Regions from separate parts of the Homo sapiens genome. Here all the other regions are linked to region 5. The links come from fine-mapping of genetic effects on gene expression. A gene starts in region 5. Each other region holds a variant in brackets. All regions are shown on one strand. Distances are from middle to middle.

What was found.
Region 1: its variant is fine-mapped to the expression of ZNF169 in whole blood (TOPMed, PIP above 0.99).
Region 2: its variant is fine-mapped to the expression of ZNF169 in cerebellum (GTEx, PIP above 0.99).
Region 3: its variant is fine-mapped to the expression of ZNF169 in cerebellar hemisphere (GTEx, PIP 0.99).
Region 4: its variant is fine-mapped to the expression of ZNF169 in whole blood (INTERVAL, PIP above 0.99).

The regions. Positions count from the first base shown.
Region 1 is chr9:94,496,353-94,501,457 of GRCh38, reverse strand. The region is part of intron 1 of LOC107987100 (a long non-coding RNA gene); the gene reads left to right. It also overlaps the pseudogene LOC100421692. Among named protein-coding and RNA genes, the nearest start is that of PCAT7, 56 kb to the left of the region's middle. The variant C/T (reference allele first, on the strand shown) is at 2,168.
Region 2 is chr9:94,146,717-94,151,821 of GRCh38, reverse strand. It overlaps the pseudogene LOC107987099. Among named protein-coding and RNA genes, the nearest start is that of MIRLET7A1HG, 17 kb to the left of the region's middle. The variant C/T (reference allele first, on the strand shown) is at 2,728.
Region 3 is chr9:94,484,143-94,489,247 of GRCh38, reverse strand. LOC107987100 (a long non-coding RNA gene) reads left to right here. Exons shown (of 3, transcript XR_001746844.2): 2 at 1,428-1,596; 3 at 3,370-3,806. Among named protein-coding and RNA genes, the nearest start is that of PCAT7, 68 kb to the left of the region's middle. RefSeq lists an enhancer at 1,001-1,170. The variant A/G (reference allele first, on the strand shown) is at 2,300.
Region 4 is chr9:94,295,855-94,300,959 of GRCh38, reverse strand. It overlaps ZNF169 (zinc finger protein 169), which reads right to left. Exons shown (of 5, transcript NM_194320.4): 5 at 1-1,145. Among named protein-coding and RNA genes, the nearest start is that of NUTM2F, 30 kb to the left of the region's middle. The variant C/T (reference allele first, on the strand shown) is at 2,108.
Region 5 is chr9:94,257,242-94,262,346 of GRCh38, reverse strand. It overlaps ZNF169 (zinc finger protein 169), which reads right to left and starts at 3,049. Exons shown (of 5, transcript NM_194320.4): 1 at 3,002-3,049. It overlaps LINC02603 (long intergenic non-protein coding RNA 2603), which reads left to right and starts at 3,036. Exons shown (of 3, transcript NR_160773.1): 1 at 3,036-3,236. RefSeq lists enhancers at 1,592-2,237, 2,567-2,696, 2,238-2,884, 2,727-3,046, 2,885-3,530.

The sequences.
Region 1 (5,105 bases), 240 kb before region 5:
AGTAGAATTTATCTAATTACTGTGAAACTGATTATCCATTTAGAAAAAAAAAAGGTTAAATCCCTATTTCACCACATACAAAAATTCCAGAAGGATATAAGCAAAAATGACAGAGTAAAAATCTCTCAAAATTCTCTCCTATCAAAGCAACGAGAAAGCTACCCAAATTGGTGAAATCAACTTTTTAAACTTTGGAAATTAATCAAAGATTTACAGCAATGCAGAAAGCATTTATTCATGAAAAATGGATGAATCTCAGCAGAAACAGGAACTTTGTGGTGCTTTTCCATGCCCTCTCTCCAGCTTTCAGGCAGCCTTGCAAACCGACAGCCCACAATCATGGTGAAAACCAGTAGCCTGACAGCCACTGTAGCAGGCAGAACAGGGTTAATTGGAAAACTGAATTTAAAAACATGATCTAACTATGCATCTACAAGAGACATAGTTTAGACTAAAGAACACAAATAGGTGGAAAGTAAAAGGATAAAAAGATATACTATGTAGGCCAGGTGCAGTGGCTCACACCTGTAATCCCAGCACTTTGGCAGGCAGAGGTGGGCAGATCACCTGAGGTCAGGAGAATGAGACCAGTCTGGCCAACATGGTGAAACCTCGTCTCTACTAAAAATACAAAAATTAGCCAGGCGTGGTGGCACATGCCTGTAATTCCAGCTACTTGGGAAGCTGAGGCAGGAGAATCACCTTAACCTGGGAAGTGGAGGTTGCAGTGAGCTGAGACTGCACCACTACACTCCAGCCTAGGCAACAGAGACTCCATCTCAAAAAATAATAATAAAATAAAAATAAAAATAAAAAATTAGACGAGCATAGTGGCACACTTTTGTAGTCCCAGCTACTCAGGAGGCTGAGGTAGGAGGATTACCTGAGCCTGGGAAGCTCAACACTGCAGTGAGCCATGATTATGCCACTGCACTGTAACCTGGGCAACAGAGTGAGATCCTGTCCCCCCCAAAAAAAGTGTAAATCCAGCATAAAGATATAACAATTATAAACATATATGCACCCTACAAAAGAATCCCAAAATACATAAATCAAAAAAGTTTCAAATGGATCGAACCTACAAATGTTGAGAAGCCGAATAATAATTTATTAGAATAAATGTAAGAGAATATTTTTATAATCTTTTGAGGCCTTAAGCAACAAAGAAAAAAACATCTGGGTACAGTGGCACATGACCATAGTCCCAGCTGCTTGAAAGACTGAGGCAGGAAGCTTGCCTGAGCCCAGGAGTTCAAGACCAGCCTGGGCAATATAGTGAGACTCCATCTCAAAAAAAAAAAAAAAAAAAAAAAAGATAGATGAATTTAGTGATAAAAAACTTAAGAATTTTTCTATACGTGGCAAAAGCATGATAAATGAAGTAAAACGATAAACAACTAGGAGAAATATTTATAATAAACATGAAAAGGGGTATTATCTCTAACTTATAAAGAACTCCTACAATGTGATTAGAAAGGGAAAATTAACCTAAAAGACAGGACAAGGAAAATAAATAGGCAGTGTACAAAGAGAAAATGCAAATGGCTAAAACCTCACTATAGTCCTGGAAATACAACAATGAGATACCATCTTTCATCCATCAAATTGGGCTTAAAAAATAAAAAAGATCTATAATATCCAATACTGATAAACTGGTAACGAGCATTCATACACGCCTGGTAGGAATCTGCTTTGCTATACCTTTTTTTAAAAAAAATGTAGTATGGCAGTTTCTATTAAAATTTATAGTGTAAACAGATTTTAAATCAGCAATCCCAGTTTGGGAAATCTATCCTGCATAAATAAAAGCACTACTACAAAAGTAACATATTTATCTATTACAGAAAATTATGATGGATATCAATTTTTATTTTTCCCTGTAACCTAAATCATTTTTTTCTGGCTTATTCCCTAGACTGCTTCTGCCATTTTCCCTATAAATCTCTCATTCTCAGCAAAAGAACAGAAAACATAAAGAGAGTTTTCTTCTCCAATATTGTTTTATAAAAATCTCAAACATACAAAACATTAAAAGAATTGTTTAATAAACACTCTTACAATCAGTAACCAGCTCACCTAGATTCTGTAATTAACATTTTGTTATATTTGTTATCACGTATCTGTTCATCTACCCATGCCTTAAAGAGGTTGTTTTTAATTCCTTTAT[C/T]TGTTTCCATGGCAAGGCAATGTTTAAACATAAATAGTGAACAAAGCCAGCCGGAAAATAAAGTTTTTACCTTATTAATCACTCCAGTCTCTCTTTACCATTCATACTTCAGATTGTTTCCCCAAATACACAGCTTAAAGCCAAATCCAATTCTTTTATCTGTAACAACTGAATTTATTACTCTATTTAATCTTCACTTTTACTGAAAGGTTTCTCTTTTTTTTCTCTTGAGACAGTCTTGCTCTGTCACCCAGGCTAAACTGCAGGTGCGTGATCACAGCTCACTGCATTCTCAACCTCCTGAGCTCAACTGATCCTTTGACCTCAGCACCCTGAATAGCTGGGACTACAGGCACATGCAACCATGCTCGGCTAATTTTTCTATTTTTTTTTTTTTGTAGAAATAGGGTTTTGCCACATTGCTGGGCTGGTCTTGAACTCACGGGCTCAAGCCATCAGCCCACCTCAGCCTCTCAAAGTGCTAGGATTACAGGCACGAGCCATTGTGCCTGGCCAGAAGGTTTGATGCTTTTGAGGAATATGCTCAATGCAAGAAAGCACTGCAAATTATCAGCTTAAGAATGGTTCTTGTGTATGGGTATCTCTCTCCTCCTTACTTACATCGTTATGTAAATATTGCCTATCTCACAAGTTATGTTTTCATAAAATGGCCTCTTATACCCTATTTTGTTTTATTATCTACAATTTCGATGGGTTTGCCATAAAGACGTTATTATTTATGGCATCTAATATGCTATGATTCTCAGATTCTAGTCTTGGCACCCTTCTAATAGAGGAGAACAAGAACAGAAATGAAAAATACCTATAATTGGCCAGGCGCGGTGGCTCATGCCTGTAATCCCAGCACTTTGGGAGGCCGAGGCGGGCGGATCACGAGGTCAGAAGATCGAGACCATCCTGGCTAACACGGTGAAACCCTGTCTACTAAAAATACAAAAAATAAGCCAGGCATGGTGGTGGGCACCTGTGGTCCCAGCTACTCGGGAGGCTGAGGCAGGGGAATGGCGTGAACTTGGGAGGCGGAGCTTGCAGTGAGCCAAGATCACGCCACTGCACTCCATCCAGCCTGGGCAACAGAGCGAGACTCCGTCTCAAAAAAAAAAAAAAAAAAAAAAAAACCTAAAATTAAAAAGTGGGAGGCCATCTGCAAATCTTGAAGTGAGAGGATTTCCATCTTCATCATGGCAAAATGCAAACAGCCCAGCAGAGAAACCCTGTAAGAAAAAGTTCAAAATGTCTTAATGTGAAAAATATCAACGCTGATTACAGGCCTGTGATCAAAAGAGAGCACTGATACCAACTGGGACATAAAAGCACCACGCCAATGCTTCTATAGGAACTTCTCACACATTGGAATCGAACAATTAAGTGTTCCATATTTATAAATTTTAAATTCTAATTACTTGAGGTAAATATTTCTAATGAGAAATTTTCTAAAATACAGTATTTTCAATTTATATACAGTATAAATACTATAAACATCTATTACTGTGCTATAATTATATTTCCAGGCACCATTAAGAGTTTTAAAACCATGAAGCGCACCAGCTGTTGTGTTTTTAATTCCTGTCTTCTGTGTGTGTGTGTGTGTGTGTGTGTGTGTGTGTTTGTGTACTTTATGAAATGGTTCTGAAAGTCTGTCTGCGTTTTAAAGTTATTTTGGCCTTCTTATATATATAGCAGAATCCTCCCAAAGTGCTGGGATTACAGGGGAGAGCCACCACTCCCGGCCTTTCTTCCTTTTTTGAGAATGTTTCAGGTATCACTTCTGAACAAGAGCTGTAAAGATAAAAGCAGCACACTGAGATGCATGGCCAAGACTGACATTTGCTTACAATAGATAAACTTAATTCAAAATGTCTGTGAAGACAAGCATTTGTATGTGCTCAAATATACATGTAAAAAATTATTTAGCTGATCATTTCCTTTCCTTTAATTTGAGAAAGTGGTAAGTCATCACTACTTTCTCCCTATAAGGATTTTCACATGGTTATCAGAAGCGGCAACAGAAGGGCCGGGCACAGTGGCTCATGCCTGTAATCCTAGCACTTCGGGAGGCTGAGGTGGAGGATCACTTGAGCCCAGGAGTTCAAGAACAGTCTGGGCAACATGGCAAGACCCCATCTGTACTAAAAATACAAAAATTAGTGGGGTGTGGTGGTGCGTGCCTGTGGTCCCAGCTACTCTGGAGGCTGAGGTGGGAGGATTGCTTGAGCCCAAAAGGTTGCAGCAGCAGGGAGCTGGACTCAGTGGCTCACCCCTCTAATCTCAACACTTTGGGAGGATCACTTGAGTCCAGGAGTTTGAGACCAGCCTGGGCAACACAGCGAGACCATGTCTCTACCACACACACAAAAAAAAAAAAAAAAAAAAAAAAAAAAAAATTAGCCGAGTGTAGTGGCACATGTCTGCAGTCCCGGCTACTTGGGAGGCTCAGGTGGGATCACTGGAGCCCAGGAGGTTGAGGCTGCAGTAAGCCATGGTAATGCCTTAAAAAACAAACAAACAGCAGCAGCAGCGCAGGCTCTGCCATATCTACATACTTTCATAGGCCTTTCAGTATCATTAATTCTTAAATCTTAGAATTTTAAGGGAGGAAAAAGCTTTATAAATCTTCTTGTTTGATACAAGGTCTGCCTTTATCACCAGGCTGGAGTGCAGCAGCACAATCTTAGCTCATTGCAGCCTTGACTCAAGCCATGCTCCCACCTCAGCCTCCCAGCAGCTGGGACCACAGGTGCACACCACCATGCGCCACTAATTTGTGTATTTTTATTGAACATGAATCTAGGAATCCATATCATCTTAAAATGGAATATATGTATAAAAACGAGAACCTAATAAGCAGAAAATCAAGGCATGAAGGAAAGAAAGTAATGGTAGAATTTATCAGGGCATGAATAATCTGTTTCACTGT
Region 2 (5,105 bases), 110 kb after region 5:
GAATTACACTCAGCTCTCCAAAGGAGTCCCTCCTCACCAGCCATTCAGGAGGCAACAGAAGGAATAGCCGGTTCGCCAGTCTCATCCTACCGCACCCTCTCTCCGAGATGACTGAGGGTGGCTGGAGTCTCATAAATCTCATAAATCACTGTACCTGTTTGAGCCCTTCTACATGTGACCCCTTCAACCCCACTGTGGGCTGCAGGGCTGAATACTGCATGTGTGTGTGTGCGCGCACACACACATGCACCCCCCCTACACATGCACCCCCTCACCCCCCGCACACACACACACATTCGTCCCTGGGCTCCACGTTACAAATCAAGAATAAAGTTAGCACTGGGCTGTGGATTTGGAAAGTAATCCTCTACTATACTCCTGAGTAAACATCTGGTTTCAACTATGTAGGCTTACCGAGTAATTTGACAGATTGGGCAGCTAGGCAAAAAGAAAATTTTAAAAAGTATAATTTAATACCAGATTCATGATTTTTCCACGCTTTTCACACATCTGAGCGAGCTGGTTTTGCTCCCCGGTGTGAAGTGTCTCAAGTACTTCCTTAAGCTTTTCCAGGATATTTTCAGCCAGGATGTTTCCCTGCAATCCATTTGTTCCCCTGCCCTTCAAATAAATGTCCTAAAACACAGAGATCACATGAGTTTGTGGCAAATTCCTGAGGCCAAAGGCCACCTCATCTTTGGGGGAGGTTGAAATATGTCCCTTCCTGGTCACTAAAACACCATCTGGGAGGAGGAAAGAACTCACATTCCACCCTGGGGAAGGCTGACAAGACCTGGAGAGGGAAGTGACTGTGAGAACCCTGCACGATGACACTTCCAGGCTGGCCCTGCTGTGGGCCTGTTACCAGTATCTGTTGTGAAAGTCACTACAAACTCCATCAGGTGAAACTGGAATCTGCGTTCCTTCAGTCCATTGAGTTTTGGTTAGGACCTACTCTGTCTTCCACAGAAACTCAGTCCAGTGGTAAGAAATGCTCACAGTCAATGACTGCACAGTTGGATATGCCAGTGGAGTGCAGAGAACGAAGGACCAGGTCTCACTGTGTCTTTTATTTTCTGTATTTTGATGTTTTGGCACCTGGGGCCTGCCCTCCCAGGGTTAGCCAACTCCTAGACAGAGTAAAGGATCTCACCTGGGACTGTGCTTTTCAGATGCAAACCAACCAACCCAGATCCCACACCCCCAACCATCCAACCTTCTCACACGCAGGCCACTGTCCATCTGCCCTAATTACCAGAGAGCAAGGCACAGCTCCTATGCCTCAGAGCCCACTGAAATGATTCACACTAGCCAGTCTTTAGCCTGCTTACCCTCCCCTCCCCATTTCTTCCTGTGGAAACCACAGCAAAGGCCCTGGACCACAGTTCCCTGCCATTCCTTTTGCTTCCTGATCAACCCTGGGGCTTCCCCATGTGGCCCTGCGTGGTGGGGGGCTCCCTCCTCTTGGGAACTCTGAGTAACAAACTACCTTTTCAATGGCAATCATCTCCTGATCTTTTGGCCCCAACAGAACCAGTGCAGGGAAGTGATTTCTTTTCCCTGGTGCCTCGGAAATGAGAAAAGAACTTGTCTTGAAAAGAGGTGGACCTGGGTTTGAATTCCAGCATAACACTCACTACAGAATGCTGCTGGTGTATAAATCTTTTCCAGGATTCAGCAGAATGAATACTCCAGGGAAGATGAATGGGCCTGCGCCTGGGATCTGGGCCTTTTTTCTTTTCAAAGAAAACTGAAGAGCACTGAAAATGTCCCAGAGGGTCTGCCTTCAGAGCTGGGCACACCAGTCCTCTTCCTCCCTCCCTTCTCAAATCTCTGCCTCTACTCAATCAGTCCAAAGCTCTTTCCCGCCCTTCTAGGCCGCAGGTGCAGCCAGTATCCCAGCCAGCACTGTCCCTCTGCTCAATCCTCTGTGTTCTGTCAGGGTGAGGACGCACAGCTACTTCTGCTCAACCCTCTTGGGACCGCACCTGCATGACCTGCCCAACCCCCAAATCCAGGCTCAACAAAATTTCTGCGAAGACCTCCAGTGTACTTCCTGTGCCCTTTGCAGGTTCCTTATGGGCTCCCGGAGTCTGAGGAGCCTGTGTGTCTGTCACCTGGGAGCAGGAAAGCCAGAGAGCAGGGCAGGGGACAAGGACCGCCTCCCTTACAAAGTGGAGCTTCAGAGGGTGCCATTATCTCTAGTTGCTTGGTGCATTAACTTAAAATCACAATAGAGAAATTAAGGTTGCCATGGACCTGCTCAGGGAGGGAAGATGAGGAAGGAGCTGTGCACGAGAAGCTCAGTCGTCGGAGAGGCAGCAAATGCCAGTAGCGTCTAAAACCAGTGGGCGAAGAATGGTGAGATAAACACATACTCAGAGCTATGGTGGTGACTGCAGGAAGAATGAGGTAGAAAAAGTTAGGAGAGATTGCCTCTGGAGAGTGGGACTAGGGGTGGGATGGCAGCATTGCTTTTCATTATAAACTCTTTTCTACACTATTTCTTTGATATGATTTAAAAATAAACATACAAATAAGTGAAAATTCCAGGTTGACAAATAAAATGATCCATCCAAATGTGTGGTGCTTCTGAGCTGTTGCCCCTGTCTCTGCAGTCACCTCATGGCACCCCTCCCCCAAAAGCCAGGTGATGACCGCCTGCCTCTCTCCCTGCCCTCCAGCCCCTCAGGATTCCTCTGCCTGCAACCTATTCCTTCTAGATTT[C/T]CTTCCTTCCTTCCACAAATATCCAAAGGGTCTGGGGCAACACCAGTCATGATTCCTACAGTCCAGCTGGCGAAATGTTACACAAAGAATTTCCATGAGAGCATGTGACATTGTGCTTTCAGAAGTCAACGTTATGATGACCCTTTCCAGGTTAAAATATGTCACTAGCTCCCCTCTGCTTACAGGATAAAATGCAAAGCCCTTTGCTTGATGTGTAGGGCCTCCTGGAATATGTCCTACTTACCCTTCGGGTGGGTACCCTAAAGCCCCAGGTGTCTCCCACAGCACCTTATGCTCAAGCCTCCGTGATCTCTGGGCCAGGCCCTTAAGCACCTCCTTTCTTAGGCTCTCTTTCTCGGGCCTTGCTATCTGCCACTGTCTCTTCCTAGATTGCCCTCTCCATCAGCATCAGTCCTACCGTAGATTCTATGCAGCAGTGCCTCCCCTGTGGCCTTCCTGTCCCCTGCGGTGCATTGCAGACCTGCACTGTGGGGTCTCCCATTATATGTGTGGTCTATCTCTCCTTAAAGGGTGAAATCTGAACCCTCATCAGCTCTGCTTCTCTGGTCTTCCACCACAGTGACAAGGCACCTAGCAAGTGCTAATAAATGGCCCTACCTACCCCAGCGCATACTGAACAAGCTGTTCTGTAAGAAAGTTCTCTCCAACCTTAGGCCACAATGTACATCCTCCTGTAGCTCCTCCCTGTGGGTCCTGATGGATCTTCTAAGCCTAAAGGAAAAGCCTGTCCTCCCCTGCCGATGCCCTCTCACAACCCTTCAGAGATGTGGGTCTGCCTTGCTGGTCTTCATTTTGGGGCCCAAAGTCCCCAGTTTTCTCATGGGCTAGAGTTCGAAGAGTGCAGACCAGAAAGAAGTCTGCTCCCTCGTGGAGTCAAAGGGCCCTGATTTTCCTCTTACTTTCCTACACACTGGACAACAGAACCATCCCTGGACCTGGGTGCAATTCTGGTAAACCAAGATCAGCTCCAGGCACTGTTTGCAGAAGTTGTGGGAACAGGACAGCAGCAGTGCAGGCAACGTAAGCAGCTCCATGCACACGGGCAGGACAGTGTTGCACCCAGCGGCTCCATGGCTCTCAGGCTGCCGCCCCGGCCAGATGCTAGAACAGGCCTGAAACTGCTCTGGGAGCCACGTCACAATAGCGCCATGGCCAGGCCCGGCTTTCCTCCAGGGGATGAAGCAAGGAAGCTCCTTGAGTGCTTCGGGGGTGCCAGGACGTGTCGGGGAGCCAGGCGGCCAAATCCAGCTGCAGCTCCTTTCTTTGCAGCTCGTGTGCCAAGATGGTTCTTAGATTTTTTAGACTCTTTTTTTTTTTTGAGACGGAGTTTCATTCTTGTTGTCCAGGCTGGGGTGCAATGGCGTGATCTCGGCTCACAGCAACCTCTGCCTCCTGGGTTCAAGCAATTCTTCTGCCTCAGCCTCCCGAGTATCTGGGATTACAGGCATGTGCCACCATGCCCGGCTAATTTTGTATTTTTAGGAGAGACGAGGCTTCGCCATGTTGGTCAGGCTGGTCTTGAACTCCTGACCTCAGGTGATCTGCCCACCTCGGCCTCCCAAAGTGCTGGGATTACAGGCATGAGCCACCGTGCCTGGCCATTTTTTAGGCATTATATAAAACAAAAAGCGAAAAACAAAACAACAAAAACAAAGATATGCAACAGAGTCCACGCATGACCTGCAAAGTCTTAAGTATTTACTTTCTGGCTCTTTACTGAAAGAGTCTGTGGTCCTGTGTAATTGAGAAGATGAACCTACTAAAATCCAGCTACTCCTAGGCACAGCATCCTGGCCTCAGGTTAGCAGGGAGGAGTTGGGGGATAGGGCCACCACCCCACCACAGCCGGACCATCTGAGGCAGGTAGCCCCTGGCCTCTCCTGTTCCTTCTTCATTCACGTGTGTTGAACGAGGCCATCTCTCAGCCCTTCCTCTCTGATCCTGGGCATCGCCAGTCTGTGGACTCTGACTTGGCCTTTCCCAGCCCTCAGTGCCTGTCTCGTCTGCCTGCCTGGGGGTTCCTGGAGGATCAGCCAGTCCAAACAAGGGGCACTAGTTGAGCACCCATGTTGGGCCGGCATTGTCATGTGTTATCTCTTATTTCATCTCCACAGCCCTAAGAGGCTCAAGAAATTAGCTTTCATTAAGTCAGAGAAACTGAGGCACAGAGAGGTAGGATAACCTTTCCAAGGCTGCAATGTGTCATGTTCCATATGACTCTTTCTCTTTTCCTGGCAAGCTATGTTGCCTCACAGATGAGGTTGTCCTATAGATGTGAAGGTTCATGGTAAAATGTATGGGTGTGGCTGGGCGCGGCGGCTCATGCCTGTAATCCTAGCACTTTGGGAGGCCTAGGA
Region 3 (5,105 bases), 230 kb before region 5:
ATCTCCACCATAGTACGAATGCATTTGGTGATGTTACTGGATGACTGGGTGACTGAAAGCTCCTAGACAGCTTCAGGAGGAGGGCTGGTTGCCAGAGGCTTGGAACTGTGAGTCTCACCCACTGAGCTCCAGAAGAAATGGTGGCCGAAGATTGACTTAATCACCAATGGTCAATGATTTCAACAATCATGCCTGCATAACGAAGCCTTCATCAACACCCTCAACAACAGGGTTTGGAGAATGCCTGGGTTGTTGAACACAAGGGGCATATGAGGAGGGTAACATGCACAACAGAGAGCATGGAAGTTCTGTGCCCTTCCCCCCACATACCTTGCTCTGTGCATTTTTTTTTTTTTTTTTTTTTTTTTTTTTTTTGAGACAGGGTCTGGCTCTGTCTCCCAGGCTAGAGTGCTGTGGCACAATCGTGGCTCACTGCCACCTATGCCTCCCTAGCTCAAGCCATCCTCTCAGCCTTCTGAGTAGCTAGAACTACACGCACATGTCACTGCACCTGGCTAACGTTTAGAAAAATTTTTTTGCAGAGATGGGATTTCACCACGTTACCCAGGCTGGTCTTAATCTCCTGAGCTTAAGTGATGCTCCCGCCTCAGTCTCCCAAACTGCTGAGATTACAGGCATGAGCCACTGTGCCCAACATGTACATCTCTTTCACTGGCTGTTTCTAACATATATCCTTTACAGTGAACCAGTAATAGAACGTAAATTGGTGAGACACAGTGGCTCATGCCCATAATCCTAGCACTTTGGGAGGTTGAGGTGGGAGAATTATGTGAGCCCAGAAATTTGAGACCAGCCTGGGCAACATAACAAGACCCCATCTCTACAAAAAATAAAAGAACATAGCCAGATGTGGTGGAGCAGGCCTGTAGTCTCAGCTATTTGGGAGGGTGAGGCGGGAGGATCACTTAAGCCCAGGAGCTCGAGGCTACAGTGAGCTTTGATCACACCACTGCATTGCAGCCTGGCAACAGAGTGAGACCCTGTATCTGAGAATAAAAGAAAATAACTTGTTTTTTGAGTTCCGCAAGCTGTCCTAGCAAATGATTCCACCCACGAAGGGGGTTATGAGACCCTGTTTCCTAACTGGTTTGTCAAAAGTACATGTTAACAACCCAGGACTTGCAATTGGCATGTGGAGTGAGGGTAGACTCCTGGGACTGAGCCCCCATCCTGCGGGGTCTGCACTAACTCCGGGGAGTGTCAGGATGGAATTGTGGGATACCCAGTTGGTATCCAGATTGTCCGAAAATCGGTGTAGAAACTCCACATGCACATTTGGTTAGAGGTGTTTGACCATAACTACTATTCAAGAAAAAGATCTACTCATTAGAAATAAAAATCATAAAATTATACATTCTACAAAAACAAATCAACCTTATCTACCTCCCAATCCTACCAAACTACAGAATGTTAGAACAGAAGGTCTGACCATGGACTCAAGAGCTGACGTTAGGAATGTCAGCACCATCCTGCTCTCCAAGGACTCCTCATCTTCAACAGACTCCTCATCTTCAAAGGAAAGGGTGGAAACTGCAACTTGTGCCATGATCCCTGCGTGAGAAAAGTAGTAAGAAAGTGAGTGATAGAAATCCAGTGTCCTAAATTCACATCCAGAACTGTGAGAGTTTTTCACTAGCTGGCTAATTCACAGGTTTCTTGCATCAGAGGAAAAATACGACTCAGAAACTAGGAATTCCATTTGCCCAAAACTCTCATCAGATTAGAGAATCCATCCGCTAACTTTCTTATCTAGTATTATTTCCATGAGTTAGATCAATATCATTCCCAAAATAAATGCACATGGCACCCAGAATCTGTGCATTTCTCCCAAGTAAAAGAGGAGGCGGCCAGGAACGGTGGCTCATGCCTATAATCCCAGCACTTCAGAAGGCCAAAGTGGGCGGATCACCTGAGGTCAGGAGTTCAAGACCAGCCTGGCCAACATGGCGATACCCCATCTCTACTAAAAATAAAAAATTAGCCAGGTGTGGTGGCACATGCCTGTAGCCCCAGCTACTTGGGAGGCTGAGGCAGGAGAATCGCTTGAACCCGGGGGGGCTGAGGTTGCAGTGAGCTGAGATCGCACCACTACACTCCAGCCTGGGCAACAGAGTGAGACTCGGTCTCAAAAAAACAAAAACAAAAAAGAGGAGACAAGGCGCTGTACAACCCAGTGCCCAGTGATGGGCTACCACAAGTCAACACAGGAAAGAGGTGCCAAGCTCCCTTTCTCCCCTGCACAACCCGACACAAAAAAGAGTTGGTGCAGTGGAATGAG[A/G]CTGGATGGAGAGAAGTTCTTCTTTTTTGTTTTTTTGAGACCAAATCTCACTCTGTCACACAGGCTGGGGTGCAGTGTCTTTGTCTTGGCTCACTGCGACCTCTGCCTCCCGGGTTCAACCAGTTCCCTGCCTCAGGCTTCCAAGTAGCTGGGATTAGAGGTGCCTGCCACTGCACCCGGCTAATTTTTTTTTATTATTATTTTTAGTAGAGACTGGGTTTCACTATGTTGGACAGGCTGGTCTTGAACTCCTGACCTTGTGATCCACCTGCCTCGGCCTCCCAAAATGCTGTGATTACAAGCATGAGCCGCCGCGCCCAGCCAGGAAGTTCCTCTTCTTACTGAGAAAATAGATCACAGGGCATCAAGTAACATGTAAAAGTCTTTATAATAAGGAATATGATTTTTGGAAAAACTTTCCTAATATTTTGGTATTAGCAAAAACCCTCAGATTAATTTCAAACAGTATAAAAATACAGTATATAAACAAAATATTAACTGTCAGTAATGCTATAGAGAAATTGGAGGCTTTTTGGAATGTAAAATGGTACAGCCCACTGTGGGAAATGGTTTGGCAGCTCCTTAAAAATACTAAGCATAGAATTATTTGATCCACCAACACCCTTTAAGCGTATATACCCAAAAGAACTGAGAGCAGGGACTCAAACAGGTATTTGTACACCCGTTTAACAGCAGCATTATTCACAGTGGCCAACAGGTAGAACCAACCCTAATGCCCATCAGGGTTGATAAAGAATGGATGAATGGATGATGGATGAATGGTGAATGAAGAAAATGTAATATATACATATACAGAGTATTATTCAGCCATACAAAGAAAAATATTTGGCCAGGTTCAATGGCTTACACCTGTAATCCCAGCACTTTTCGAGGCTAAGGCGGGCAGGTCGCTGGAGCCCAGAATTTTGAGACCAGGCTGGATAACATGGCACATTTGGTTAGAAGTGTTTGATCATAACTACTATTCAAGAAAAAGATATACTCATTAGAAATAAAAATCATAAAATTATATGTTCTACAAAAACAAATCAATTTTATCTACCGCCCAGTCCTACCCGACCATAGAATGTTAGAACAGAAGGTCTCACCGTGGACTCAAGAGCTGACATGAAGAATGTCACCACCATCCTGCTCTCCAAGGACTCCTCATCTTCAATGGACTCCTCATCTTCAACGGACTCCTCATCTACAACGGGCAGGGTGGAAACTGCAACTTGTGCCATGATCCCTGCGCAAGAAAAGTAGTAAGAAATTGAGTGGTAGAAATCCAGTGTCCTAAACTCACATCCAGAGCTGTGAGAGTTTTTCACAGGCTGGCTAATTCAGAGTTTTCTTGCATCAGAGGAAAAGTAAGACTCGGAAACTTGGTATTCGATTTGCCCAAAACTCTCATTAGATAGAGAATCCATCCGCTAACTTTCTATCTAGTATTATTTCCATAAAGTTAGATCAATATCACTCCCAAAATAAATCCACGTGGCAACCAGAATCAGTGCATTTCTCCCAAGTACAAGAGGAGGTGGCCGAGCGTGGTGGTTCACGCCTGTAATCCCAGCACTTTTGGAGGCCGAGGAGGGTGCATCAGGAGGTCAGGAGATGGAGCCCATCCAGGCCAATATGGTGAAACCCCGGTGTCTACTAAAAATACAAAAAATAGCTGGGTGTGGTGGCGTGTGTCCCAGCTACTTGGGAGGCTGAGGTAGGAGAATTGCTTGAACCAGGGAGTCGGAGGTTGCACTGAGCCAAGATCGTGCCACTGCACTCCAGCCTGGTGACAGAGCAAAACTCCATCTCAAAAAAAAAAAAAAAAACCCAACAAATACAATAAAATATAAAATGTCTTTTTCTCTTAACCTTCTGCTGGAAAAACAAAACAAAACAAAACAAAAAAAACCTTCTGCTGGTACTTCAATTTCTGCTGGTACTGTTCCGTCATTGCCCTCTAAAGAATGATGGCTTCCTAAAAATAAAATAACCTATAATAAACCAATAAAAACTCACATTGAAAGAGAATCTAGGTAACGATGCAAACACTTTTAAGACATAGTAGGCCGGGCGTGGTGGCTCTTGCCTGTAAACCCAGCAGTTTGGGAGGCTGAGATGGGCCTATCACCAAGGTCAAGAGTTTGAGACTAGCCCGTGCCAACATGGTGAAACCTCATCTCTACTAAAATACAAAAAATTAGCCAGGCGTGGTGGCGGGCACCTGTAATCCCAGCAATTTGGGAGGCTGAAGTAGGAGAATCACTTGAACTTGAATCTATAAAGCAATAGATTAGTTAGGGAGTCACAAGGTAAACAGGCTCATCCTACTGGAGCAGAAGTTTTATTCACAAATACAAAAGAAATCTAAAATATCAGAGTGCCAGTCAGGATTAAGACCACGAGCTGCCCCCAGTATACATCCTCTGTCCTTAAAGATCTGAGCTACTAACAAGGAAAAGATTGAAAAACAGTGTCTTCAAGTATAAATAAAAATATATTACATTTCAGTAAGAATACATTGTTTAGGGGGAAGGGAAGCAGATGCTCATCTATTTTGTCCTATCTATTGATAACTAAATTCAGAAGCTGTACTAAAAGTAAAAGTTATAAATACATCTTCTCTTAATTTATTTTTTTTTGAGATGGAGTCTCGCTCTGTTGCCCAGTCTGGAGTGCAGTGGTGCAATCTCGGCTCACTGCAAGCTCCTCCTTCCAGGTTCACGCCATTCTCCTGCCTCAGCTTCCCGAGTAGCTGGGACTACAGGCGCCCGCCACCACGCCCAGCTAATTTTTTGTATTT
Region 4 (5,105 bases), 39 kb before region 5:
AAAGCCACGCCCACAATCAGGGCACAGGTAGGGCTTCTCCCCTGTGTGTGTCCTCTGGTGTCCAATGAGGGTGACCTTCTGGCTAAAACCCCGCCCACACTGGGGGCACAGGTAAGGCTTCTCCCCTGTGTGTGTCCTCTGGTGCCTGATGAGAGTGACCTTTTGGCGAAAGCTGTGCCCACACTCAGCACAGACATAAGGCTTCTCTCCTGAGTGTGTGACCTGGTGACTAAGGAGGAGTGACTGCTGCCTGAAGCTACGCCCACACTCAAGGCACAGGAAGGGCCTCTCCCCTGTGTGTGAGCTCTGGTGCTGGAGGAGTGATGCCTTCTGGCAAAAGCCTCTCCCACACTCAGGACACACGAAGGGCTTCTCCTCCAAGTGCGTCCTCTGGTGTAGAAGGAGGGCTATCTTCTGGCGAAAGCCTCGCCCACACTCCTGACATACAAAGGGCCTCTCCCCGGAGTGAATCCTCTTGTGATTAGTGAGAGAGGATGTATACCTGAAGTGTCGCCCACATTCCCTGCACACATACGGCTTCTCCCCCGAGTGCTTCCTCTGGTGTATGGAGAGGGAGGCCTTCTGGCTAAACCGACGCCCACACTCAGGACACAGGTATGGCTTCTCCCCGGTGTGTGTCCTCTGGTGCTTGATAAGGTCTGATCTCTGGCAAAAGCCTCTCCCGCATTCAGGGCACACATGATGCTTCTGGTGGCTGAACAGGCTTGACTTTTTGCTAAGTCCCAGTCTATAGTTTCCACGTATGACTGCTCCAGATTCTGAAGTGTCTGCTCCCTTCAACATTGTGTCTGACCCCCCAAGACTCATCCTTTGGGCCAGGCGAAGGTCTGTTCCTCCTTCTCTGTTCCCTTCTACCCATTCTACTGGGTCACCTTGATGTGGGCTGAAGAATGTCCTAGAAATTCTGCTTGGCCTCTTTCTTAATGAGCTGTCGGGGCCTTCTGTCTCTCCACTTTCTCCTTTTTCACTAGAGCATCTTGGAGCTTCTAGTTGGAAGTCACCTCCTGCAGATGAGCTTGGGAAGATCTGTGTGGGATGGCCACTTAGCGCATATTGTCTGAGGAGCTGCGAGCTAGAAAAGGCCACCAGGTGGGGAAAACTTGGCTGGAATTCTGTTCTAGGCTCTGCTAGAGAGAAAGTCTTGGTCAGAATCACCACAGGTGACCATGGATTGTAATACCTGCCCAGCAGTTTTCTTCAGATGTTCACAACAAAGACTTATCTTCCAACCCACAAGGGCACATTACATGCTCTATTGCAGCACAGAAAACCCACACTACAAACTAGTCCTATCAGCCAAACTAAAAGGTTCAAAAAAGCATCACAGGCAGCTTCAGCTCTATAAATTGCTGCAAGTAGAGTTACACATTTATCTTCCTTTCTTGGGCGCCGCTCCCTTGCTTTTGCTCCAGCTCAAGCCTATTAAACCTTGCCTGAGAAACATTTGTTCGGCCTGCTGTTTATGCAAGAGCCAAGAACTTGGTGTCTGAGCTGCAGTTAAGAAACAGACTGATTATGATCTTGAAGGTGCTATAAATAAGATCTTAGCATCTGAAGGGGAGCCATGCTTTGGGCTTCCTTGACTGTGGTGACTCAAGTAAGGGGCACCCACGAATCAGATAAGCTGTAGCAAGAGATACTGGCTCCTGTGTGGAATAGGCTTTAGGCCAGGGAGCTTCCATATCAGCCTGATGTGAGTTGTCTCCTGAACTGTATGGACACCCTTAAGTCCTCTTGAAGAAGAGGAATCCCTGATGCTGCCCTCCGGGCAAATGAAGGTGCTGTCCTCTAGCCTCTGGGAAGACTGCAGCCAAGTATATTCCCCGAATAGCATTGCACAACACTACGTACACTGTTTTGCTCAATAATCCAGGATTTTTAAAAAAATCTGGTGAATTAAGGAGAAGCTCAGCGTTTGAAAGTTAATAATAGATGACTTCTCATTAGCATAAAGATGTTTCAGGGATTATACATATTTCGGCTTAAGCATATTCTTATCCATGCACAAAAACTGTTAAAACTATACAAATTGACTTTTTCAAAAAATTTTGTTTCTAGGTTTAAATAGGCTGCCAATTGGAGATAA[C/T]ACTAATTCCCATGATGGTATAAATTAAAGGCTCTGGAAATTGGCAGTGCTTTCAGCTTCCGTAAGTTGATACCGTAACTCCTAGGTAATTATTGACTAAGTTCTTTTTTTTTTTTTTTTTTTTGAGACAGAGTCTCGCTCTGTTGCCCAGGCTGGAGTGCAGTGGCGTGATCTTGGCTGACTGCAACCTCTGGTTCAAGCAATTCTCCTGTCTCAGCCTCCTGAGCAGCTGGGATTACAGGCGTGCACCACCATGCCCGGCTAAGTTTTGTATTTTTAGTAGAGATCGGGTTTCACCATGTTGGCCAGGCTGGTCTTGAACTCCTGACCTTAGGTGAGAGACGGGGTTTCACCATGTTGGCCAGGCTGGTCTCGAACTCCTGACCTTAGGTGATCCGCCTGCCTCGGCCTCCCAAAGTGCTGGGGTTATAGGCATGAGCCACTGCGCTCGGCAGGACTAAGTTCTTATGAGTCATTATGGGACAGCCCTCAATAGAGAAGTCTGCTTTCATTATCTCTGAAATTGTTTGCTGTAGTGAATAAGCAAAGCATTTGGTAAGAGAAAAATAAGGCATTTTCTTATTCATGGCTAGTTTATCTTTTTTATCTTACTTTTGTTTAAAGACTCCTGCTTTTTAACTCAGATTAGAAATTGAGTCTCCTTGAACAAATTTTTTTTTTTTTTTTTAAAGGAGTCTCGCACTGTCGCCTAGGCTGGAGTACAGTGGCACTATCTCAGCCCACTGCAACCTCCACCTCCTGGGTTCAAGCAATTCTCCCACCTCAGCCTCCTGAGTAGCTGGGATTACAGGCGCACCTACTACGCCTGGCTAATTTTTTGTATTTTTAGTAGTGACAGGGTCTCACCATGTTGGCCAGGCTGGTCTCAAACTCCTGACCTCAAGTGATTCGCCTGCCTTGGCCTCCCAAAGTGCTGGGATTACAGGCGTGAGCCACCGCGCCCAGCCCCTGGAACAAATTTTTAAGAGCATTGATCAGAAATGTACCTGGCAAGTAGCAACCCATAGCAAGAAACTGAATCAGGGTTTCAAGTGCCCTATCAGAACAGAAGTGAACAATTTAATGGAATTAAACTACTTAACAGAAGACCCTTGGTTCAAGGCAGACGATTATAAATACAATACTGATTTATATGTTATTCTATTTGTTAACTATTTTTAATCACAAAATACGTATTTCTTATTTTTGACCATACTATTCCTAAGAAAAACTCTTTGTATCATTGATTAGAGTCAGTAAGATCATATCTGCAAGAGGGAACTTCAGCAGCTTTAGGGATTGCCATTCACATTCCATCTGGAATACAGAGAAGGTCCTTCATATTAAAATATTCCAGTGGAAAAAGATGTGAGTTTTGCAAGATTACAGCATACAAAATCACTATACATAAATCCATTTTATTTCTACATACCATCAATAAACAACTGAAAATTGACACTTAAAAATAGCATCAAAATATGAAATACTTAGGGGCAAATCTGACAAGAGATATGTAAGGCCTGTATACCAGAAATGACAAAACAATGCCGACAAAAATGAAAGAAGTCTTATGTAAATGGAGAGCTATACTGTGTTCACGTACTGTAAGACACAGTATTATTTATGTGTAAGTTCTCCACAAATTGATACAGATTCAACTCGATCCCAATCAAAATCTCAGCAGGCATTTTTGTTAAAAACTGACAAGCTGATTCTAAAATTCATATGAAAAAACAAAGAATAACGAAAAGAACTTGCAAAAAAAAGCAAAGATGGAGGATTTTTTATTTTATTTTATTTTATTTTGAGATGGAGTCTCGCACTGTTGCCTGGGCTGGAGTGCAATAGTGTGATCTCGGCTCACTGCAACCTCCGCCTCCCGAGTTCACGCGATCCTCCTGCCTCAGCCTCCCGAGTAGCTGTGATTACAGGTGCGCACCACCACACTCGGCTAGTTTTTTTTGTATTTTTAGTAGAGATGGGGTTTCACTATGTTGGCCAGACTAGTCTCGAACTCCTGACCTTGTGATCCGCCTGCCTAAGCTTCCCAAAGAAGATGGAGGATTTACAGTGAGTTCAAGACCTAATAAAGCTACAGTAATCAAAACTGTGGTATTGGCATAGAGACACTAACAGAGGAGTAGAAAAAACATAGAGTCCAGGTATAGACCTATCACATATGGTCAACTGATCTTCCACAAAGATACATAGGAAATTCAGTTAAAAAAGGGTAGTGTTTTCAATAAATGGTGCTGGAAAAATTGGATATTTGTATGCCCTTCCTCCCCTAAAAAAGTACATAAATTCAGATCTTTTATCAAGTATATTTACTCAAAATAGGCTTATAGACCTAAATGTAATTAAAAATTGTAAAATTACTAAAAGAAAAAAATGAGAATCTTTTTGACCTTACTTTAGACTAAAATTTCTTAAATACACTACCAAAACTGCAATTCATAAGAGAAAAGATTGAAAACTGGACTTCATCCAAATTAAAATTTCTCTTTGAAAGGCACTATTAAGATTATAGAAAGTAAACCACAGAAAAAATGTTTGTAAATCATATATCTGATAATGGACTTCTACATAGAATATGTGAAGAACTCTCAAACTCAATAATACAAAAATAAGAAACCACATTTTTAAATGGGCAAAAGATGTGAAAACGTACTTCACTAAAGAAGATATAAGATAGCAAATAAGCACATGAAGATACTCAACATCATCAGTCATTAAGAAAATGTTAAAACCACGGTAAGATGCCACTCACTACACAGCTATAAGAATGTCTGAAATTAATAACCAAGCCAAGTTTTGACAAATATGGAACACCTGGAGCTCTCATACACTGCTGTGGGAATGTGAAATGGTGCGGCCACTTTGGAAAGCAGTTTGTGAGTTTCTTCAAAAGTTGAATATATATTGTATCCATCATCATACAACCCAGCCATTCCAGTCCCAGGTATTTATTCAACAGAAATGAAAGCATTATATTCAC
Region 5 (5,105 bases):
TAATAGCCTAACCCCCTTTTCCCATCTGAGTTTCTATCCTCCATGAACTTCCTTTTCCAGGCAAAAAAGACAACTGATACCCTCAAAGTCAGTCAGTTGCACAGTCCAGGTGGGTGCCAAGCACTGTGTCAGTGACCCATGAGGAGCCAGACAAGGTGCCTGTCCCCTCAAAGAACTATCTCAAAACCAGTGGGACAGTCAGACAGTTGAGATATACCATGCCAGCCGTGGAGTCCTCATATAATAAAGTGCTCTGAAACTAAAAAGGACAATGGAAGTAATTCTGCCAGAGAAAACTCAGGAAAGCTTTGTAGTGGACAAATATCTGTAGTGAGGCAACTTTTGAGACAAATACGGAAACAACACAGCCTGAATAAGTGATACTAAATAAATTCTGTTAATTTTCTTGGGTATGATCATTAATGCTGAAGTTGTTTTTCTTTAAATTCCTTATTTATGAGAGATGCATACTGAACACTGAAGTATTAGATTGGTGCAAAAGTAATTGTGGTTTTTGCCATTTACAGATGAAATGATATGACATTTGAATTTTGTTTTAAAGAACTACATCAGAGAAGTGTCATACACAAGTTTTACTTCGTTCTACATTCACAGCAGCTCCACGAGGTTAAGTACCTTGCTCAAAGTGACAGTGACAAAGGGAGAGACCTGGATTTGAACTCACTCTATGAAGGGTCACTCAAGACACCAAATCCTGGTATAGACCCCTAGTGAAAGAGACAATTTCCAAAGAGATCCACACTTGGGGTTGCAGATTTGGGGGAAAGAAGACAGGTGAGTCATTTGTAAGTGGTGAATCTGAGTGATGAATCCATGGAACTTCAAAACTACTTCTGGATATCTTTGCAATGTTTTCATACTGAGAAGTTAGAAATAAGAGTAGGTCTTGGCCGGGCGCAGTGGCTCACGCTTGTAATCCCAGCACTTTGGGAGGCCGAGGCCGGTGGATCAGGAGGTCAGGAGTTCAAGACCAGCCTGACCAACATGGTGAAACCCCGTCTCGAGCGGGGTGCGGTGGCTCACGCCTGAAATCCCAGCACTTTGGGAGGCCGAGGCGGGCGGATCACGAGGTCGGGAGATCGAGACCATCCTAGCCAACATGGTAAAAACACAAAAATTAGCCAGGTGTGGTAGCGCGTGCCTGTAGTCCCAGCTACTCGGGAGGCTGAGGCAGGAGAATACCTTGAACCCGGGAGGCGGAGTTTGCAGTGAGCCGAGATCGCGCCGCGCCACCCCACTGCACTCCAGCCTGGCGACAGAGCAAGACTCCCTCTCAAAACAAACAAACAAACAAACAAACAAAAAACAAACCCCGTCTCTACTAAAAATACAAAAAAAATTAGCCGGGCGTGGTGGCGGGCGCCTGTGGTACCAGCTACTCAGGAGCCTGAGGCAGAGAATTGCTTGAACCCGGGAGGCCGTGGTTGCAGTGAGCTGAGATCACTCCACTGCACTCCAGCCTGGGCGACAGAGTGAGACTTCATCTCAAAAAAAAAAAAAAAAAAAAAAAAAATGTAGGTTTGGATGCCTTCCACCCAACTTCTTCCCCCACCTCCAGGAATTCAAGGAGTCACTCAACAGCCCCCTGAGGCTTGAGAAAAATGTTCCTTGGCCCTATGGGCACCATTCTGCTTGTTGCAACCCATGCTCCCGGAAGGGTCCCCAAGTCCGAGGGAGCCACACAGCTGCAGAAGCCGACAATCTGGATACAAGCACGCCCCCATGCAACCCACAACCCAGGGATGTCTAACTCCAGGCAAGCCCTTCTCAACTCACCAACTTGGGTCCCCAGGCCCCAAGGCTACTGACCCGAGTCGCACGGCCCTAGCCGTCCCCCCCCCCACTATCAAGACCAAGTCTGGATGTCTACCCACAAACAATCCTCCCCCACAAACCCGGGTCCTAGTGGCCAAGCTGCACCATCACCACCACAGTGCACCAGCCATCCACAAGAGCCCTAATAACTGGACTGAGGTTGGGCACGGTGGCTCACGCCTGTAATCCCAGTACTTTGGGAGGCCGAGGCGGGGGGATTACTTGAGGTCAGGAGTTCGAGACCAGCCTTGCCAACATGGTGAAACCCCGTCTCTACTAAAACACAAAATATTAGCCGGGCGTGGTGGCGTGCGCCTGTAGTCCCAGCTACTCGGGAGCCTGAGGCAGGGGAATCACGCCACTGCACTCCAGCCTGGGCGACAAGAGCGAAACTCTGTCTCAAAAAAACAAAACAAAACAAAAACCAAAAAATTAGCCGGGCGTGGTGGCGGGTGCCTGTAATCCCAGCTGCTCGGGAGGCTGACGCGGGAGCATGGCTTGAACCCGGCGGCTGGGGTGGGGCGCGGAGATTGCAGTGAACCGAGATTGCGCCACTGCACTCCAGCCTGGGCGACAGAGAGAGACTCTGTTTCAAAAATAAATAAATAAATAAATAAAATTTAATAAATAAACAAATAAACAACCCGACTGATGCCCAAGCCGCGTGCCTCCCACTAATGGGGAAGTTTGCTCCAACCGAGGATATCATGTCCTCCAAAGGCACATTTGCTGGCCCAGAGACCTCCGAGGCGCGATGGTGGGGAGGGGATGGCGGGATACTAGTGGCAGGATGCTGTCTGGGTACCCCAGGCAGAGCCCACTCAGCGGCCCCCGAAGTACCGGGGACGCACCTGCGAAGTAGCTCGGGAAGTCGGTCCCAGGCCTGCACTGGCCCCTCCAGGTCAACATACTGGGCCCAAAGTCCCGCCAGAAGCACGCGACAACGCCAACGCCCCCTCCCCACCAGAGGACCTCCGCCAAGACCTCTCTCCGGGGTGGACCACGCACGCCCAGACCCCACAGCCGAAACTCAAAACACCAAGGAACATGTGGCCACGACATGGACTGCCCATGCCAGCTTTCCCGACCTTCCTTCCAGTGGAAGGCCCGCGAAAGCGGGGACCACCTCCGGGCTAGCTCACCAGAACTGTGAAAGGACACTCACCACGCACCAGGCGACGATGCCGGAACGCGGAAGTACGCGAGCCGGACTGCCCCTGGGCACGGAACTACACTACCCAGACTGCCACGGGGCGCGCAACTACCCTACCGTGGATGCCCTGGAGCGAGGGACTACAACATCCAGAATGCTGCGAGGGGCGGGACCGCAGCATCCAGGAGAAATTGTGAAAAATCAGAAAGTAAAATCTAACTTTCGGGTCTATGAGAAGGGTGGTCAGGTGAGCAGTAAGTCTTCTTTAACTTTTTATACGGTCCTTCTAATTTTTTTTTTTTTTAAAAAGATGTTACATGTCCTCCATCCTGCAAATTCACACCTGTGATTGTACACCCCTGAACTTTATCTACTTACTTATTTTTTGAGAAGGGGTCTTGCTCTGTCGGCCAGGCTGCAGTACAATGGTGTGATCATAGCTCACTGCAGCCTCAAACCCCTGGCCAAGCAATCCTCTCACCTCAACTTTCTGAGTAGCTGGGAATACAGGTGCATAGCACCACACCGGGCTAATTTTTTGTTTTGTTTTTTAGAATCTGGGTCTCGCGGCCGGGCGCGGTGGCTCACGCCTGTAATCCCAGCACTTTGGGAGGCTGAGGCGGGCGGATCAGAGGTCAGGAGTTCGAGAGCAGCCTGGCCAATGTGGTAAAATCCCGTCTCTACTAAAAATACAAAAATTACCTGGGCGTCGTGATGGGCGCCTGTAGTCCCGGCTACTCAGGAGGGTGAGGCAGGAGAATCACTTTGAACTCGGGAGGTGGAGGTTGCAGTGAGCCAAGATCGCACCACTGTACTCCAGCCTGGACAACAGAGTGAGATTCCTTCTCAAGGGGGAAAAAAAAAAAAAAGAATCTGGGTCTCGCTATGTTGACCAGGCTGGTCTGGAACTCCTGGCCTCAAGCAATTTTCCCACTTCAGGCTCCCAAAGTGCTGGGATTACAGGCGTGAGCCGTCCTTGTGGCCCAGGCTGCCTTTCGAGTTTATTTAGGGCCCTCTAGCCAGAGGTGGTGAGATTGGCAGTAACTCAAATTCCAACTGCTGGGATAGGTGATTCTCCTCGGGCTAAGGCTGGTGTAAATACTCCCTCCATGCGTGAGAATCAGCTGTGTTTGATCCAGTTTTGCTTTCTGGTATAACAGGGCAGCACTGAGTTCAATGCAATGTCTCATCATTGCTGTGCTTGCCGTCTCCCAAGAACATAGATTCTCTCTCCGCACCACAGAGCCACTGCTGGGGGATGGGTCAGGGGCATTGGTGATTCAAGACTGTCTTTCCTACCTTTTCAGTGCCTCTTTCAGTCATATGAAGTAAAAACCAGGTACTGCGAGTGCTTACCTGATTTTTGGTTCTTGTGAAGGTGCTTTTGTGTGTAAATAGTTGTTAACTTGTTTTTCTTACAAGGGGGAATGATCAGTGGAGCCTTCCATTCCACCATCTTGCTCCACCTCCCACCCCCATGTTTTAAATGACAGTGTGTATGAATGTACTTCTAAAAATGCCAAAAATACTGGGGTTTTTTTTCCTGTTATAAAGAAGAAGATTCTGAAGTTTTTTTTTTAATTCCAATTGATTACAAGAAGATAAGGAAAAACTAAACTTGAGGACATTTAACACTATAGCAATTAAAGTTATCTTACTAATGCAAAGATTGTTTATTAGATGTAACAGAATAATACGCTCAAAAACATACCAAAGTCTTTGCAAAATGAGTTATACTCTTTTTCTAAGAATTTGATAAAAAGTGGTATTTTTAAGTTACTTCCTATTTGCTTCTTCTCAAAATGAAGTAACAGGAACCAGATTTAGCCCTTCACCTTAATCAACATTTAAAAGGACAAAATATATGAAACATTTGAAGACATTTGACATCAGACAATGAAGAGCAGTGGAAATCATGGAGGTGAGCCTTTGAACTTCCCGCAGATGGAGAGAATTTCCAAGTCATAGCACAGAGAAGGGAAACTCAAGTGAAGCATGGAGTTCAACTTGAGGAGATGGAACTGGGAATCTGAGGAGGCATATGCATCTAGAGTTCACAGGGCAGAGTACAGAAAGGGAGAGAGAGCGCCAGAGATGTGCAGAGAGTCCTCTTCCT